2 separate regions of the Homo sapiens genome follow, and region 2 is linked to region 1. The links come from fine-mapping of genetic effects on gene expression. A gene starts in region 1. The other region holds a variant in brackets. All regions are shown on one strand. Distances are between the middles of the regions.

What was found. PIP is the estimated chance that this variant, and not a neighbour inherited with it, causes the effect.
Region 2: its variant is the best candidate, but not a certain one, in a credible set for the expression of MAP3K8 in whole blood (TOPMed, PIP 0.51).

The regions. Positions count from the first base shown.
Region 1 is chr10:30,431,034-30,436,407 of GRCh38, forward strand. It overlaps MAP3K8 (mitogen-activated protein kinase kinase kinase 8), which reads left to right and starts at 3,151. Exons shown (of 9, transcript NM_005204.4): 1 at 3,151-3,345. RefSeq lists enhancers at 571-630, 1,138-2,019, 2,691-2,830, 3,551-3,650, 3,941-3,990 and 3 more and a silencer at 2,871-3,110.
Region 2 is chr10:30,515,814-30,521,187 of GRCh38, forward strand. It overlaps the pseudogene HNRNPA1P32. Among named protein-coding and RNA genes, the nearest start is that of MAP3K8, 84 kb to the left of the region's middle. The variant T/C (reference allele first, on the strand shown) is at 2,515.

The sequences.
Region 1 (5,374 bases):
CTCTAACGCTACCCAAAATACAAAAATTAGCCGGGTGTGGTGGCATGCGCCTGTAGTTCCAGCTATCTGGGAGGCTGAGGTGGGAGGATCACTTGAGCCAGGGAGGTGGAGGTTGCAGTGAGCTGAGATCGCCCCACTGCAGTCCAGCCAGGGCGACAGATCCAGAACCTGTCTCAAATACATCATACATACATACATACATACATACATACATACATACATACATACAGGGAGTCCACAGACTTTTTCTTTCTTTTCAGTTGCTCTCTCCCTTTTGGCCTCCTTGTTAAAAACTCTACATACGTTTTCAAGTAAAACCTTCTAATTTACCCCAACAGATGAACCTGCTCTGGATTAAGCCAGAAGCAAGAGAGAACCCTGCTAGACCAGCCATTTCACCAGCTCCCTAAAATGCAGCTATATTTGGGAGACTTCTGTGTAGGAAGTAAGGCTAATAATGCAGTTCCCAGAAGATTAGGTGTGGTTTTAATGAGCTCACACAAGGCGGGTGGGGAGGGGAGTGGTTCCATGGTTCTATTTTTAAAACTCGTGTAAAGATCATCCTTTGTTGTCTAAACACGGCAGTAGAGAAAGAGACGTCTCTGTTTCTCACGTTACAATCAGAGGTAACAACCTGTGCTAACCTGGTTTCCAGCGAAAAGGCCAAAAGTGTACTGATAACTTCGGCTTCAGCTGAGACTGGGATAACCCGCTTGAGCCAGTGCCAAATTCCACCCATCCGGCGCGCAAGCGAGCGGGGCTTCTCCTCCCCAACCCCGGCCCAGGCTGCTTCTGCCGGGTCAGTGCTGCCGGGTTGGTGGAAGCTGCCTTCCCTCCCTCCAAGATCAGAAAGGCGGAGGGTTCAGGAAGGGGTTCTCCTCTAGGTGCAAGGGACTGCCTGGATATTTGGAGGGAATGGCAAAGCCCTGCTTCATGAGGTGAATGAATATAAATTAAATCGCTCTCGTATTTAAAATAACTTGACGGATGACAGTGCCCATTCAGTCAATCGGCCCTCGACGTTGGATTTGCTACCTGGGCTTGTTGTCTGCGAGTTAAGGTCCTGCAAAAAGCCCCTGGCTTGTCACCTCAACTAACCTATCTCCTCCAGCAATTCTCTCAATACATCCTCGGGTTGTATTGTAATTCATTTTCCATAGCAGAAATGTGGAGGGCTCTAGAGAAGGTACAAGGCAAATTTTTTTTTTAAATTTTATTTTTGGTTGGCCGCGGTGGCTCACGCCTGTAATCCCAGCCCTTTGGGAGGCTGAGGCGGACGAATCACCTGATATCGGGAGTTTGAGACCAGCCTGACCAACATGGAGAAACCCCATCTCTACTAAAAATACAAAATTAGCCGGGCGTGGTGGCGCATGCCTGTAATCCCAGCTACTCGGGAGGCTGAGGCAGGAGAATCGCTTGAACCAGGGAGGCGGAGGTTGTGGTGAGCCCAGATCGCTCCATTGCACCCCAGCCTGGGCAACAAGAACGAAACTCAGTCTCAAAAATTTTTTTGTTTTATTTTATTTTTTAAATTTGAGACAAGGCCTCGCTCTGTCGCCCAGGCTGGAGTGCCATGGCGCAATCATAGCTCACGGCAGACTCGAACTGCTGGGCTCAAGGGATCCCCCTACCTCAGCTTCCGAGGAGCTAGGATGACACGCGTGAGCCACCATGCCTGGCTAATTTTTAGATTTTTTGTAGAGACGGGGTAGCTATGTTGCCCAGGCTGGTCTCCAACTCCTGACCTCAAGTGATCCTCCCGCCTCGGCCTCCAAAGCGCTGGGATTACAGGCGTGCGCAACCGCGCGGAGGCAATCTAGAAACTGCAGAGGGAGCACGGACCTGGGCACTGGGAAGAATAGGGCGTGGACTTGGAGTGTGACCGCGTTTGAATCTGGGTTGTGCCTGGGACACCCCACCTCCTGGGCCGTAGGTGGGGGGGGAGAGAGAGAGAGAGAGAGAGAGAGAGAGAGGATGTCGACCTTACATGGCTCCTAGCTCTCCGCGCTCTAGCCGAATGCCTGGTTCCTAGTGGGTGCTTGATACGTGGGAAATGTAGGGGGAGGGGGTGGCGGGGCATTGGGAATGTCCCGCAGAGTGGATTTCGGGAGAGTGGCGCTTTTCTCTAGAACTCTCTTCCGGTTACACCTGGAGTAAAAGCTTGACACTCTAGAAGGAAAACCCCAGATGAGCAGCTAGGACTGAGGGTTAGCGGTAGGCGGGAGCGGGGAGATAGTACAAGTACGCTTCCTAATGAGGCGGTGCCGCAAAATAACCAATTTTAATAAAGACTGCAGAGAAGAAAACCAGGTTCTGCTGGCGGAGTGCACAGGCTCCCAGCCGAGCGCCCAACAACCAGGTTCCGGGCCCACCCTGCCGCAGCCTCTTGGAAATCTCTAAGTTGGAATGTGTGCGTGCGCACCACGGGTCACTGCCCTCTTTGTGTGTGAATTTGAAGCGAAATCTGGGCGAGGCGGGGCCGTGCTACTAGCAATCGGACCCACAGTCGCGGTTCCAAGAAGCCCCGAAGCTTCCCCGGCTTCCCGCAGCACTGCTGGGAGGGCACACGGCGCCTCTGTCCCCACCCCAGAGCGTGGGGCGCGCGGAAAAAGGTCTGGTGACTGCCCTCCCCGCCGCCCCCCGGGAGCGTGCCCTCCCGCCGGACCCTGGGACTCCAGAGAAGCGCCGAGGGCGCGAGTACACTAAGATATACGACCTTCCCTGGGGACCGGGAAGGGCACAACCACCTCTTGCAACTCCGCCACTAAGACGCCTTGGGTCACCAGGCCCGGGGGAAAACTCGTCCCCGTCCCAGGCTCTCGATTCGGGCCGCAGCTCACGTCCCGCGCTCCTCCCTGCGCGCCGCTCTGCTCCTCCCTAGTCCCGCCTCCAGCTCCGCCCGGGCGCCCAGAGGGCAAATGAGGGGCGGCGGGGTGGCGGGTGGGGGGGAGACGCGGAATTTCCCAGCGCGGGGGCTCTGGCTTACCCTGCAACCGGGCAGTCTCTTTCTGTTTACGGAGAGAAAGGGGAAATGGAAAAGTCGGGGAGGCGGTGGCTGGCGTCCGCTGCGCCGCCCCTGGGCAGGCTCAGACGCCGTGAGTCAGGGGCAGAGCAGGGCGGTCTGAGCGTGCGGGCGACGCGGGTCTCACTCGTCCGCTCCGCTCTGGACTGCGCGCCACGCTCTGGGGTCCGGCGCCCTGGTTCCTGCTTCTGCCGCTGCCGCCGCCGGATCCCAGTGGCCCGGCGTGCTCGGCTCCCACAGGCCTGCAGCCAGCATCGCACCGAACCTTCGGGGGGCCGCGGCTGGAGCGCTCGGCCGGCGTGGGAGCGCCAAGGCCGCAGGTAATCCAGGGTTGGGGGTCTCCGGCGTGTCTTTCGGGTCGCGTCCCGCCTGGGTGCCCCGGGGATTCCCATGCAGAAATGGAGGGTGCCCCCAGCAGAGGGGAAAACTCTGGCGTGGGAAGAGGTGGGGGCGTGCCCACAGCTGCGCTCGCGGGTCGCCGGCTGCACCAGGCACAGCTGGAAAGCACCTTGCGCAAGGGTCTCACGGGGTGCAGACTCGCGACTCCTCCCCCTTCCTCCTCCTTCCCGTATCCGCAGCGCCAGGGCAGTGCTGGTCTGGGCAGTGCGCGGGGAAGCGGGGACCCGCTGTCACTGCGCCTCCCGCTGCCGACGCCGCCTGGACGGCCGCACTCTCCCTGCCCGAGACCCGGTGAGTGCAGCTCGGAGGCTGGAGGACCCGATCCTCCCAAATGCTGGGTGCTTTGATAATTTATAAGCCTTTTAGGCTCCCTTGACTTAGAGAACCAGGAGGAAAGGAGTGGGAGTGTGGGTTGGCGGAGCCCAGAGACTTGTGAATGGCTGGAACTAAATTCAAGTTTGTAACCCGGACTCTATCCCATGACTAAAGAGGTCATAGCAGAACACGAAGGCTGGGCTTTTGGTCTAAGAAAGAATACTAGGAGAAAAAAAAAGTTATTTTCACGGAAGTTGTTTTCGAGCGATAGTGCATGATCAGGACTCTGAAATTTTTCTAGCTCTGGGCGGAGAAGGACGCCTAGGGATTGTCTCCATAGTTAACAGGGGAAGGCCACCGGCTGCCTGTAAGAGAGAAACGTTGCGATGCTTGTCTATTTCACTTTTGGGAAGACAAGATTAAAGGCTGCTCTTGATAAAAAACAGGGACAGAAAGGCTCTTGCAGTTGCTTTACATACCTGTGGCCTGAGTCGTTTGTGCCAAGGAGAGTGTAATCCACTTCCAGCTGACGCCCCCAGCTCTCTGCGACGGATTGAGGTTTGTGTGCAGGACGTCTGGCATACGGCCCATGAGGACTTTGTCGTGTAAAGCAAATGGGAACGTTGAGGCATGTAGAGGTTTTGAAGCAGAGTGTCGGTCCTTCCTTCCATACGCCTGAAACGCATAATCCGGGGCTTTTTGAGAGCAAAAACATAGTCAGAAATGTGCCCTGAGGGAGAATGTACTATTTTGGCACACATATGTATATATGTATATATAATTTTTAAATTTTTTTTGAGAGGGGGTTTCACTCTTGTCGCCCAGGCTGGAGCGCAATGGCGCGATCTCGGCTCACTGCAACCTCCACCTCCCGGGTTCAAGCGATTCTCTTGCCTCAGCCTCCCGAGTAGCTGGGATTACAGGCGCCCGCCGCCACGCCCGGCTAATTTTTGTAGAGACAGGGTTTCACCATGTTGGCCAGGCTGGTCTTGAACTCCTGACCTCAGGTGATGCACCCTCCTTGGCCTCCCAAAGTGCTGAGATTACAGGCATGAGCCACTGTGCCCGGCCTAAAAAAATATTTTAAATGAGAAATAACACAAGTAATAGTCATTCTTTGTTAGGCAGAAGCATATGCTGTTATGCTGGCCATTTTCATTCACACTTGCCAGGAAACACTCACATTTTGTTTCTGTATATGGAGGCAGCCAAGAGTATTATGTTAATGTTTAGGAAGAGAATTTCCTCGTGATTTTATTGCTGATTTCTGAAATAATTCAGTGTAACTAATTTTGACTGTATTTGCACATCTCTCCAATTCCAAAAGCTGGCATAATTTTCTGTTTGGTTAGGAAGTAGGAATTTTATGAGGACTTTTATTGTAAACTGTGTCAAGGGAAAAATCATCTTATACTAAACGTCTTTATTGCCAAACTAGAATACCTTCACAATCTGAACTTTCTCTAGATGGGCACAGATCATGAATAACTCAGAAACCATTAGCATATTGTGTGCTTAATTAAGGCTGGAAAGTGCTGAGGCTTTTTGCAGGCGCAGTTAGCAGGCGAACTGGTCAGCAGGGTTTCTGGGGAACGTAGATTTGCGTGACAGGGGCCCTGTGTTGCTAAGGAATTA
Region 2 (5,374 bases), 85 kb after region 1:
GAAATGGGTCTTATTTATTTATATTTATAAATGAGACTGGGTCTTACTATGTTGCCCAGGCTGGACTTGAACTCCTGAGCTCATGCATTCCTCCTGCCTCAGCCTCCCAGGTAGGTAGGATAATAGGCATGTGCCACCATGCCCGGCGTAACTCTTAAACCAAAAACTCACTGGCTGAAGGAAGGTCTAGGTCACCATAAAGAAGGGCTCTGCAGCACCATGACAATTGCATAGGGTAGCTATTTCCCTAATCTTTTCCCCGAAGGATTTACTTGGGTAACCATAACTAAGGAAAGTGGTATGCCCATGTTTTCAAGGACTGTTGGATACAGGGCAGAGTCAGGCTGAGACTTGCTGTCCTGGACATGTGTCAGAGTAGGGCACATGGAGATAGTGGAGTCCTGGCCATTGGAAATATTGGAAATAAGAGGTCTGGAGGGGAGACATGTGGCTGGATGTATGGGAAGCAGCAAAAAGTGTGAGAATCTTTGGTTTTGTTTGTTTGTTTTTTGAGACGGAGTCTCGCTCTATCGCCCAGGTTGGAGAGCAGTAGTGCAATCTCAGCTTACTGCAACCTCTGCCTCCTGGGTTCAGCAATTTTCCTGCCTCATCCTCCAGAGTAGCTGGGATTACAGGTGTGAGCCACCATACCCGGCTAATTTTTTTGTATTTTTAGTAGAGATGGGGTTTCACCATGTTAGCCAGGCTGGTCTCAAACTCCTGATCTCAGGAGATCCACCTGCCTCAGCCTCCCAAGGTGTTGGGATTACAGGCGTGAGCCACTGCGTCCAGCTGAGAACCTTTGTATCACTCGCTAATACCCACCAAAGAGCACACACCACAGAAGAGAACAACCAAGTTGACAGGATGACTGGGCCAGTAGATGCCAGCTATTCCTGTCCTCATCCCCCCTAATGCTTGCACCATGGGATCACAGAGATGGCAGAGAGTTGCAGGCTACATGTTGGGTTCCCTCTTGCTAAGTCTGGTCCATCTCACAATGGGTGCACTGAGTGCCTGGGCTCACCCAGTGGAAATTTCCTGGATTCCCAAATGTGTGATAGAAATGAACATACCTAACACATAGAACCCTTATACTTTTTTCTTGATTTTTACAGTAAGGGCGATTATAGTAGGAAAAGCCAAATAGAAGCCCTTGAAATCATGAGATGAATGGTGACCCATGCCACCCTCAAAGACTTAGAGGATGTCAGAATAGCAGTCCTCATCATAGTCACCCACATTACCTGTCTAGCTTCTATATAACATAAATGGATTATGACAGATGACAGTGACCTACTGCAAACGTACCCAAGTGTAAACCCAAACTGCAGTTGCTAGGCCAGGGGTAGTATCTTCATTAGAGCAGATTAACATAGACGCTGGTCTGTAGGATGCAGCTATTGATCTGGCAAATGCTTCAGCCTTGGTAAGAGAGAGCCCATTCTTTTTTTTTTTTTTTTTAAAGACACATTTATTTAGGGTCATGATCAGACTATTACATTTAGCAATCAACAGCATGGGTGCAAAAACCAAAATCTACATTAAAGCCCTTTGTTGGACTGCTTTATGCTTTCCAACGAACAGAAATTGAAAATAATCTGTTATGCAATTAGTCATCAATACAGTCTTGGAGTTTTTTGCCCATACATATATTTGTCAAAACCATGTCTTCTTTGTAGCAGCTGGACCCTGCCACCATGGTGCTTGGCTGAGTTCACAATGTGTTGTAACCTGTAGCTTCCCTGTCCCTTCTCTGGCTCGCCTCTCCTGCTAGGCTTTCTTTCCTGGCAATAATTAAAATCTTTTGCCACTGCCATAGGTACTGCTGCTACTGGAACTGCCACAGCCACCTTGGTTTCATGGTTCGGCAAAGTATTGGCCTCCAACATCACAGGGGCCAGAGCTTCTGCCTCCAAAGTTTCCACCCTTCATGGGTCCAAAATTTGAAGACTGATTCTTGTAATTGCCAAAATCATTGTAGCTTTCACCACCTCCAAAATTGCTTCCCTCATTACCAAATCCATTATAGCCATCCCCACTGCCCCCATATTCACCATCACCACGGCTGCCACCAAAGCCACCATGACGACTGAAGTTTCCTCCACAACCCACCAAAACCACCCCCTCCACCACCACCGAAGTTTCCAGAACCACTTTGACCTCTTTGGCTGGGTGAAGCACTAGCCATCTCTTGCTTTGGCAGAGCTTCCCTACCTAACTTCAAAGTTGTGACCATTCATAGGGTGGTATTTCTTTTTTTTCTTGAGACAGAGTCTTACTCTGTTGCCCCAGTTAGAGTGCAGTGGCATGATCTCAGCCCGCTACAACCTCCACCTCCCAGGTTCAAGCAATTCTTGGGCCTCAGTGTCCTGAGTAGCTGGGATTACAGGTGTGTGCCACAATGCCCAGCTAATTTTTTGTATTTTTAGTAGAGATGGGGTTTTGCCATATTGGCCAGGCTGGTCTTGAACTCCTGGGCTCAAGTGATCCACCTGCCTCGGCCTCCCAAAG[T/C]GCTGGGATTTTAGGCATGAGCCACTGCACCCAGCCAGGATGGCATTTCTGGATGACAATCTTATCCACAGAGTCATGGTCATCAAAGGTTACAAAGACAAAGCCCCTTTTCTTGCTGCTGCCTCGTTTCAGTCATGATTTCAATCACTTCAATTTTTCCACACTGTTCAAAATAATCTCTTAGGTGATATTCTTCAGTGTCTTCTTTAATGCCACCAACAAATATCTTTTTCACAGCTAAGTGGGCACCTGGTCTTTGAGAATCTTCTGTTGAGACAGTTCTCTTTGGCTCCACAACTCTTCCATACACCTTGTGTGGCCTTGCATACATGGCGGCATCCACCTCCTCCACAGTGGCATATGTGATAAACCCAAAGCCCCTGGAATGCTTGGTGTTTGCATCTCACAGTTCGTTGAGCATTCCCCATGCTTAAAATGGCTCCTCAGGCTTTTGTCAGTTGTTTCAAAGCCCAACCCTCCAATGAAGAGCTTCTGCAGCTGTCTGGTCTCTTTAGGAGACTCTGACTTAGACATGATGGCAGTGGGAAGAGAGACTTTACCAATGCTTCTTCAGTGGAATCTACAAGCAGAAAGGCAAGGGAGCCCATTCTGTCAAACCAACATGTTGCCTGCAACTCTCTACCATCTCTAAAGTTGATTTAGCAAGCAGTAGGTGGTTAGGGACTAACCCTGCCAGTAGCTGGCATCTACAGGACAAAGTTGGAGATCTCACACTTCTTGACTTCAAACTTACTACAAAGCTACCATAATCAAAACAGTGTGGTATTGACATAAAGACAGACATATAGATCAATGGGACAAAATAGAGAACTCAGAACTAAACCCTTGCATATATGGTTCAAATAATTTTAGACAAGGATGGCGATATCAGTCAATGAAGGAAAGGACTTTTTTTTCAACAAATGGTGTTGGGACAACTGAATATCCACATGCAAAAGAACAAAATTGGACCCTTTGGTTTTGGGAATAACTCTCAAATCCATATTTTTCCTCTGCTCTCACATCACAACAATCAACACAGAAGACTTCTGTGACCAAATATGTGGATTTTTTCTCCCCCATCAACAATCAGTGGACACCAGCTGGTGTCCTCCAATTCAATTCCACCACTATCTACCTGGAGATTGCATCAGATCCCACAAGTTGAGGGCTCAGTCCCACAAGACTGACCCCTCCTTTCCCTCAGTTACAAGTCTGGGCCTCAGGAACTTTTGACCAAACTGGCTTCAAGTTGGGGTTCCTATAACCCCTTCTTTGGGTTCAATTAACTTGTTAGAGTAGCTCACAGAACTCAGGGAAACACTTACTTATGTTTACCAGTTTATTACGAACTTCCATGTGTTCAGCTATCTGGAAACTCCCTGAACCCAGTTCTCTTGGATTTTTATGGAAGCTTCATGACATCAGCATTCCTTTCCCCAGGATATAGGGTAGGACTTTCTCTGGGGCGGGCCTTAAGACCCACAATAAGAAAGGTGGGGGAAAATTAGAGTCCTGCCTTCGGGCAGATGAAAGGAAGGCAAGAGTAGGACAGAGAGATTCTGTTTCCTGAGGCCTGCCCCAGGGGCTCATTTTAACACACCCGACATTAAAAGGAAAGACTCTAACAAGGGCTATGGGGTTTCTGAGCCAGGAACCATGGACAAAAACATATGCATGTGTATATAACACTACACCTTTCCTTATACCACATATAAATAATAACTAAAAATGGATCAAAAGCCGGGCTCAGTGGCTCATGCCTGTAATCCCAGCACTTTGGGAGGCCGAGGTGGGTGGATCACCTGAGGTCAAGAGTCCAAGACCAGCCTGACCAACATGGTGAGACCCTGTCGCTACTAAAATTACAAAAAATTAGCCAGGCGTGATGGTGTGCACCTGTAATCCCAGCTACTTGGGAGGCTGAAATAAGAGACATGCTCAAACCCAGGAGGTGAAGGTTTGCAGTGAGCCGAGATTGTGCCACTGCACTCCAGCCTGGGCAACAAGAGGGAAACTCCATCTCAAAAAATAAAAATAAAAAAAGATCAAAGACCTAAATGTGGAGCTAAAACTGTAAAACTCTCAGAAAATAGGGGAAAAACTTCCCATTTAAGATAGGGGAAAACAACTGGGTTAAAAAGTGGGCAAAGGACTTAAACAGACGTTTCTCCAAAGAAGATATACAAATGGCCTCTAAGCACATGAAAAGATGCTCAAAGATGCCCAACGTCACTAATCCTTAGGGAAATGCAAATTAAAATGGCAATGAAGTACCATGTCCCACCCGTTAGGATGGCCATTATCAAAAAACAACAAGAAAGCAATGAGCGTGGGTGAAGATGGGGAGAAACTGGAACCTTCTGCACTGTGGGTGGGAATGTAAAGCAGTGCAGCTACTGTAGAGAACAGTATGGCAGTTTCTCCAAAAATTAAAAAGAGTTACTATATGATCCAGCCATTTCATTTTGGGGTATATAACCCAAAGAATTGAAAGCAGGGACTTGAACAGATAGATATACACTCATATTCATAGCAACATTATTTATAATAGCTGAAAGGTGTAAGCAACCCAAGTGTCCATCTACAGATTTTTTTGTTTTGTTTTGTTTTTTTGAGACAGAATCTTGCTCTGTCGCCCAGGCTGGAGTTCAGTGGTGCAATCTTGGCTCACTGCAGCCTCTGCTTCCCAGGTTCAAGAGACTCTCCTGCCTCAGCCTCCTGAGTAGCTGGGATTACAGGCATGCACCACCACATCCAGCTAATTTTTTTTTTTTGAGATGGAGTCTTGCTCTGTCGCCCAGGCTGGAGTGCAGTGGCACGATCTCTGCTCACTGCAAGCTCCGCCTCCCAGGTTCAC